Linked DNA regions of Homo sapiens. The protein of the gene in region 1 purifies or fractionates together with the protein of each later gene. This does not show direct contact. Each region holds a gene or a part of one and is shown in the gene's direction. Other genes may lie near its edges. The genes, in order: SLC25A31 and ARHGAP45.

Evidence for each region.
Region 2: the proteins of SLC25A31 (region 1) and ARHGAP45 purify together in Homo sapiens (co-immunoprecipitation; one large-scale study listed by IntAct). This does not show direct contact.

Annotation. Positions count from the first base shown.
Region 1 is NC_000004.12:127,761,342-127,765,156, forward strand, and holds part of SLC25A31 (ADP/ATP translocase 4), read left to right. Parts: intron 1-1,988; exon of another isoform or gene 1,989-2,197; intron 2,198-2,901; coding exon 2,902-3,019; intron 3,020-3,815. UniProt on the Homo sapiens protein: ADP:ATP antiporter that mediates import of ADP into the mitochondrial matrix for ATP synthesis, and export of ATP out to fuel the cell.
Region 2 is NC_000019.10:1,076,982-1,080,796, forward strand, and holds part of ARHGAP45 (rho GTPase-activating protein 45 isoform 1 precursor), read left to right. Parts: intron 1-414; exon of another isoform or gene 415-785; coding exon of another isoform or gene 786-875; coding exon 876-1,064; intron 1,065-2,721; coding exon 2,722-2,859; intron 2,860-2,946; coding exon 2,947-3,137; intron 3,138-3,273; coding exon 3,274-3,398; coding exon of another isoform or gene 3,399-3,482; coding exon 3,483-3,566; intron 3,567-3,700; coding exon 3,701-3,805; intron 3,806-3,815. UniProt on the Homo sapiens protein: Contains a GTPase activator for the Rho-type GTPases (RhoGAP) domain that would be able to negatively regulate the actin cytoskeleton as well as cell spreading.

The DNA of each region.
Region 1 (3,815 bases):
CTACTTTATAAATCTTTATGCCACATATTTTGTTTGGTTGATGTGCTTGGTTTTCATAAGCAGAGATTAACTCAGATTACCTCAGGAAAAAGATGATTTATTGTAATGATACAGTGGCACTTGAATTTCAGCCACAGGCACCTCTACGGACCAAACTATACTCTCATCTTTCTCTCCCAAGTCACCTGTTCTTTCTCTCTAATTACCTGCTTTTAGTGTGTGTGTTTGCTCTGTTTTCTCATTATTGCCTACTTTTTTTACTTACTGATATTTTCTTATTCCTTTAAATTCAATATTTGTACCATAGTAATCCTTTTTGGCCTTTCTAAAGGTCAGAGGTTCTTAACCTGGGATCCGTGAATGCTTCCAGAATACCCCACACTCTAAAAATATATGTTCATACATGTGTAATTTTTCTTAGGAGAGGATCTATAGCTTTAAACAGTCTCCAAAAAGTCTAAGACATTAACTTTTCCTTTTCTGTCCTTATTGATAACTAGTATTGAATATTTAAAGTTCAGTTCCCAAGAAAGAGGCTCTGGCCCAGCTCATCTTTTTCTACCAGGTTACCAATCATCTACTACACTGTGGATTAACTACCCTTATGTCAGATGCAATCTCCTGATCTAATTATTTCTGTATGATGAGACATGCTGCTTATACAATAAAACTGATGAGTGTTACTTAAAAAGATCCATGGGAGTCTGGGAACAGTAAGTGGCATTACCAGTACACTTTATTAAACAAATACTTATTTAATACATATCTCTGGGCAAGACCTCCTGACTTGCTCTGTGAAATAAACAGAGGAATTAAGAATCTTGGCCTCAAACAAATGGAAACAACCCAAATGTTCATCAGCTGATGAGTAGATAATGTTCATAAAATAGAATATTATTTGGCAATAAAAAGGAATGAAGTATTAATATGTACTGCAACATGGATGAACCTTGAAAACATGCTAAATGAAGGAAACCAGTCAAAAAAGAGTGTGTCTTATGTGATTCCATTTATATGAAATGTCCAGGATAAGCAAATATATAGAGACAGAAAGTAGTTTAATGGTTGCCTAGGACTTAAGGAGGTAGGGAGGATGTGGAGTGACTTATAACAGGCCTGGGGTTTCTTTTTGGTGTGATGAAAATATTCTAAGCTGTGGTGATGGTTGCACAACTCTGTGAATATATTAACAATTGAATTGTACGCTTTACATAGGTGAATTTTATGATATGTGAATTATACTTAGTAAAGCTGTTAAGGAAAAATAATGCTGGCCTCAAGAAATTTATAGTCTGGGCCGGGCGCAGTGGCTCACACCTGTAATCCCAGCACTTTGGGAGGCCTAGGCAGGCGGATCACGAGGTCAGGAGATGGAAACCATCCTGGCTAACACAGTGAAACCCCATCTCTACTAAAAAAAAAATACAAGAAAATTATCTGGGCGTGGTGGCGGGCGCCTGTAGTCCCAGCTACTCAGGAGGCTGAGGCAGGAGAATGGCGTGAACCCAGGAGGCAGAGCTTGCAGTGAGCCAAGATCTCGCCACTGCACTCCAGCCTGGGCGACAGAGCGAGACTCTGTCTCAAAAAAAAAAAAAAGAAATTTATAGTCTGTAGGAGTATAAATGTACACAAATAATTATAAATTGAAAGTAGAAAATGGTTGTAAGTGATATTTAAAAAATAAGAGTCTGTGCAGTGAGTCGAGATCGCGCCACTGCACTCCAGCTTGGGTGACAGAGCTAGACTCCATCTCAGAAAAAAAAAGAGTCTATAACATGTTAATACATTTTATGTATTGGTCATGGGATTCAACTTTAATTCTCTGACAGAGATGAAGTATTTATGGGAAGAGGGTATGATCATATACAGTTTCAATAGATGGGTTGGAGATCAGATATTTCATGAAAGAAGTAGAACTTGAATTAGAGCATGAAGCAATAACTATTTTTTTGTTTAAAAAAGGAAGAGCATTCCAGGGCTAGAGAACATTGAGAATTGCAAAGCTGTCTGACACTTTATTGTTAGAAATAAAAACCAGAAAATAAAGCAAGAAATTGAGCTTGACTAGCATATTATTCACTTTAATGTATTAAGTGCTTGCAGTGGCCTCGTATCCTGGATTTTTCATAACAGCTCCAATTCAGATACTCCTTTCTTCTCGCATAAGCACTAGATGTTGAAAAGCATCTTGCTGAACCTGGGGAGGGCACATTTTAAATGTTGATCAAAAGTAATTATACTTCTTCAATAGCTCATGTGAACTAGTAGACCAGTGAGGCCTAACTTAAATGCCATACAACTACATTATGATTGATGTCTGCCAATCTCCATGTTGTCATTTGAACATAATTAAATACGTATTTTTGAGCTATTCAAATTTAATTCTATTTAAATTACAAAGTGAAGCTGGGGCATTGTGAAGTATTTTAGGTTGGTGCAAAAAGTAATTGCAGTTTTTTGCCATAATACTACTTACTTCACCCTTCACAGAAAAAGGGCACAACTAAAGCCTCCATATGTGCCTGACATTGTAATCATAGCAAGCACTATTATTAAGAATTATGTAGCTATTAAGGAAAAAAAAAAGTATACAGCGTAAAGAGATGATTATGCGACCTCTTTTGCTAATTTGGGCTGCTTTGCTGGAGAACATTAAAATATCCTGGAATTTCAGTATGTCAGCATCTAAACTGTGTCTTCCAGACTGCATGAAACAAAAGCTATATGGCTATAAAAATAAAATATTTTGGATAGCATGGTATGCATTATTATAGATGTTTACTTTATAAAAGTGGCTTATAAATCTGGTGTTTTAACATTTATAAAAATAAGAATTTACCAGGTATTTTAAACAGTTAGATTCTGTGGTTTAATAACCACTTTTAAATTAATATGTTTCAGTTCTGGAGGTGGTTTTTGGCAAACCTGGCTTCTGGTGGAGCTGCTGGGGCAACATCCTTATGTGTAGTATATCCTCTAGATTTTGCCCGAACCCGATTAGGTGTCGATATTGGAAAAGGTATGAGATTTTTAGAAATACTAACTTTTCCTTCTTTGCATTTTGAACCATCTGTTATTTATTGGCATTAATTGTGCTATAATAGTGTTACCAGATAAAGTCTACGAACTTTGTTCTCAACCAAATGGTGGAGTCATAGGGCCTAAAGTATATTACTTGCTTCTTTTCCCTTAAAAAAGGGAAGGAGGGAAAGCCTGTTGTAACAAAAAAAGTGAACATAAAAATTGCTTATAACTTAGTCCCATTTTTTTTTCCTAGAAAGCCCTTCCTAGATTTTTTTCCATGCACTTAGTCCTGTCTCAGCTGTGGCTCCCTTCTAGGTTAGATGCACAAATCTCATCCTAGGGAGTCCCTTTGCCTCTATCCTTACTTAAATATCACATCTTCCCTTTTTTGTTATTACACCCTTGTTTTTTGGTAGAGTATATTCTTTGGTAACTTTTTGAGAAAGAGTGAAAAAAAATAAATTGAGCTCTTACATATCTTAAAAAAAGTGTTTGTCTTACCCTCTCAAAAAGGGTAAGACATATATGAAAGTCTGAGTTTAAAATTATTTTCCTTCACAATTACGAAAATATTACCCTGACTTCTAGTTTCTAATGTTGCTCTTAAGATACCAATTTGCTTACTCCGGATCCTTTAGTATATGTTTTTTCTTTTTAGTTTCTTTCTATCCCTGATGATCTTATATTTCACAATAAAATATCTTTATGTGAGTCTTTTTTCAGTGTTTGAGTGATTGCAGCGGTCACACAACTGGCCCCGTTAAATCTGGAGCCTTGTGTTCAGTTCTGTG
Region 2 (3,815 bases), on another chromosome or scaffold:
GCCTCCCAAAGCACTGGGAGTACAGGTGTGACCCATGGCGCCTGGCGGTCTCCTAGTAATTGGATGAGTCCGTTTGTTTGTGTGCGAATCTGATGGTGCAGGTTGTGAGGTGTGGCCCCCGAGCCCACAGGTTTTTGACTAAGTGCTCTTCCTGCCAACCTGTGGGCGCCTGGCTTCCTGCCTGGGCGGCTTCTCTGTTCTCGTCTGTGAGGAGGGAAGTGAAAGCAAAAGAGCCCGGAGACGCTCCCGTGGGGGCTGGTGTGCGTGTCTGCAGAGGCTGCCGTGTGAGCCTCTGTGCAGAGCTTGGCTGCACCTCAGCTTCCCGGGCTGCAGAGTGGGCACACAGGACACCCATTTCTCCGAGTGTCCTGTTACGGGTGCCTCCTCCCGTTCTTTTTTTTTTTTTTTTTTTTGAGCTGGAATCTCTGTTGCCCAGGCTGGAGTGCAGTGGTGCATGCAATCTTGGCTCACTGCAACCTTCGCCTCCTGGGTTCAAGCTGTTCGCGATTCTAGTGCCTCAGCCTCCCGAGTAGCTGGGATTACAAGCGTGCACCACAATGCCCGGCTAATTGTTTTAAATTTTGGGTAGATACGGGGTTTCACTATGTTGGCCAGGCTGGTCTCAAACTCCTGACCTCAAGTGATCCACCTGCCTCGGCCTCCCAAAGTGCTGGGATTACAGACGTGAGCCACCGCGCCCGGCCACTCCTCCTGTTTTTCCGCTGCCGATTGTTGTGCAGGGTCCTCTGCATGCCCAGCTGGGCCATGGGGCCTTGCTGAGAGAGATGGGGGTGGGGAGGAAAGGAGGAGCTGGGGAGACTGAGTCCCATCCGAGGATAGGGTTGGAACTGGCCTCCTGGCTCCCACACCCACAGCAAGAGGCGGAGTCCAACCTGCGCAAGGCCAAGCAGGGTTACGTGCAGCGCTGCGAGGACCACGACAAGGCTCGCTTCCTCGTGGCCAAGGCGGAGGAGGAGCAGGCTGGCAGCGCGCCGGGAGCAGGCAGCACGGCCACCAAGACCCTGGACAAGCGGCGGCGGCTGGAGGAGGAGGCCAAGAACAAGGTGAGGGCGGGTGGAGGCAGGGCTGGAGGTCCCTGGAGGAGGAGATCCAATGCTTGGTGTGACATTTACTACCTCCAGACCTTTGTTTTTGTTTTTTTGTTTTTTTGTTTGTTTTTGAGACGGAGTCTTGCTCTGTCGCCCAGGCTGGAGTGCAGTGGCACAGTCTCGGCTCACTGCAAGCTCCGCCTCCCGGGTTCACGCCATTCTCCTGCCTCAGCCTCCCGAGTAGCTGGGACTACAGGCGCCCGCCACCACGCCTGGCTAATTTTTTGTATTTTTAGTAGAGACGGGGTTTCACTGTGTTAGCCAGGATGGTCTCGATCTCCTGACCTCGTGATCCGTCCACCTCGGCCTCCCAAAGTGCTGGGATTATAGGCATGAGCCACTGCGCCCGGCCAATTTGTTTTTTGGAGACAGAGTCTCATTCTGTTGCCCAGGCTGGAGTGCAGTGGTGAGATCTCACTGCAACCTCCGCCTCCCAGGTTCACACAGTTCTCTGCCTCAGCCACCCTGCCACCAAGCCCAGCTAATTTTTTTGTATTTTTAGTAGACACAGAGTTTCACCATCTTGGCCAGGTTGGTCTCAAACTCCTGACCTCATGATCCACCCACTTCGGCCTCCCAAAGTGCTGGGATTACAGGCATGAGCCACCGCGCCCGGCCCCGATTTTTAAATTATTATTATTTTTGAGACAGTGTCTTGTTCTGTCACCCAGGCTGGAGTGCAGTGACGTGATCATGGCTCACTGCAGCCTCTACCTCCTGGGCTCAAGCAATCTTCTCGCCTCAGCCTCTAGAGTAGCTGGGACCACAGGCGTGTGCCGCCACACCCAGCTAATTTAAAAAAATTCTTGGCCGGGCGCAGTGGCTCACGCCTGTAATCCCAGCACTTTGGGAGGCCGAGGCAGGTGGATCACAAGGTCAGGAGATCAAGACCATCCTGGCTAACAGGGTGAAACCCCGTCTCTACTAAAAATACAAAAAATTAGCTGGGCGTAGTGGTGGGCGCCTGTAGTCCCAGCTACTCGGGAGGCTGAGGCAGGAAAATGGCATGAACCCGGGAGGTGGAGCTTGCAGTGAGCCGAGATCGCGCCACTGCACTCCAGCCTGGGCGACAGAACGAGACTCTGTCTCAAAAAAAAAAAAAAATTCTTTATAAAGATGGGGGTCTCAGGCTGAGTGTGGTGGCTCACACCTGTAATCCCAGCCCTTTGGGAGGCTGAGACGGGCAGATCATATGAGGCCAGGAGTTCGAAACCAGCCTGGGCAACATGGTGAAACCCCTGTATCTCTACTAAAATTACAAAAAATTAACCGGGTATGGTGGGTGGGGGGCACCTGTAATCCGTTACTTGGGAGGCTGAGGCAGAATTGCTTGAACCCGGTAGGTGGAGGTTGCAGTGAGCTGAGATCGTACCACTGCACTCCAGCCTGGCCTACAGAGCAAGACTCCATCTCAAAAAAAAAAAAAAAAAGATGGGGAGGGTCTCACCATGTTGCTCAGGCTGGTCTCGAACTCCTGGCCTCAAGCAAGTCTCCCACTGTGGCCTCCCGAGGCGCTGGGATGACAGGCGTCAGCCCCGCCTCCCTGAGGTTTCTGTCTGAGTCCTGCACCCCGGGCTGAGGCCTCTCTCTGTGCGCCCCGCCCCCACCGCAGGCGGAGGAAGCTATGGCCACCTACCGCACCTGCGTGGCCGACGCGAAGACGCAGAAGCAGGAGCTGGAGGATACCAAGGTGACGGCGCTGCGGCAGATCCAGGAGGTCATCCGGCAGAGCGACCAAACCATCAAGTCGGTGCGTGGGGTGCTCCGGCCGCCCGGGCGGGGATGGTGGACCGGGCGGCCTCCTCCTGACCCCTCCGCTCTCCGGTGCCGCCCGCAGGCCACGATCTCCTACTACCAGATGATGCATATGCAGACGGCGCCGCTGCCCGTGCACTTCCAGATGCTGTGTGAGAGCAGCAAGCTGTATGACCCAGGCCAGCAGTACGCCTCCCACGTGCGCCAGCTGCAGCGGGACCAGGAGCCCGATGTGCACTACGACTTTGAGCCCCACGTCTCCGCCAACGCCTGGTACCGCCACCCAGCTGCCCTGTCCCCGGCGCACAAGGCCCTGCCTGGGAGCCGGGCTTCCCTCTGTCGGGGGCATGAAGATGAAGCTGTCTTGCCCCCCATCACCTCCCCTCCTTTTCCCGGTTTCTTCCACTAGGTCCCCCGTCATGCGTGCCCGGAAGAGCAGCTTCAACGTGAGTGATGTGGCGCGGCCGGAGGCTGCCGGGAGCCCCCCAGAAGAAGGCGGGTGCACTGAGGGCACACCTGCCAAGGACCACAGGGGTGAGTGTCCGGCGGGGCCCAGGGGCGGACGCTGGCTCCCTGCGACCCACCCTGGCCCTTCACCAGAGACGCCTCTTTCTCCAGCCGGGCGAGGACACCAGGTTCACAAGTCATGGCCGCTCTCGATCTCAGACTCGGACAGTGGGCTGGACCCCGGCCCTGGCGCAGGTGAGGGAGGCTCTCTGGCGGGCTGGGGTGTGGAGCTGCCTCCTCTCCTGAGCCTCAGGGTTTCATCACCCACCGGGGTGATGGAGGGGGCCCCCCTGGCTGGGGGAGTCTGAACAGTCCTGATTCCCGCCCAGGGGACTTTAAGAAGTTCGAGCGGACGTCATCCAGTGGTACCATGTCGTCCACGGAGGAGCTGGTGGACCCAGACGGTGGAGCCGGGGCTTCAGCCTTTGAGCAGGGTGAGGGTCC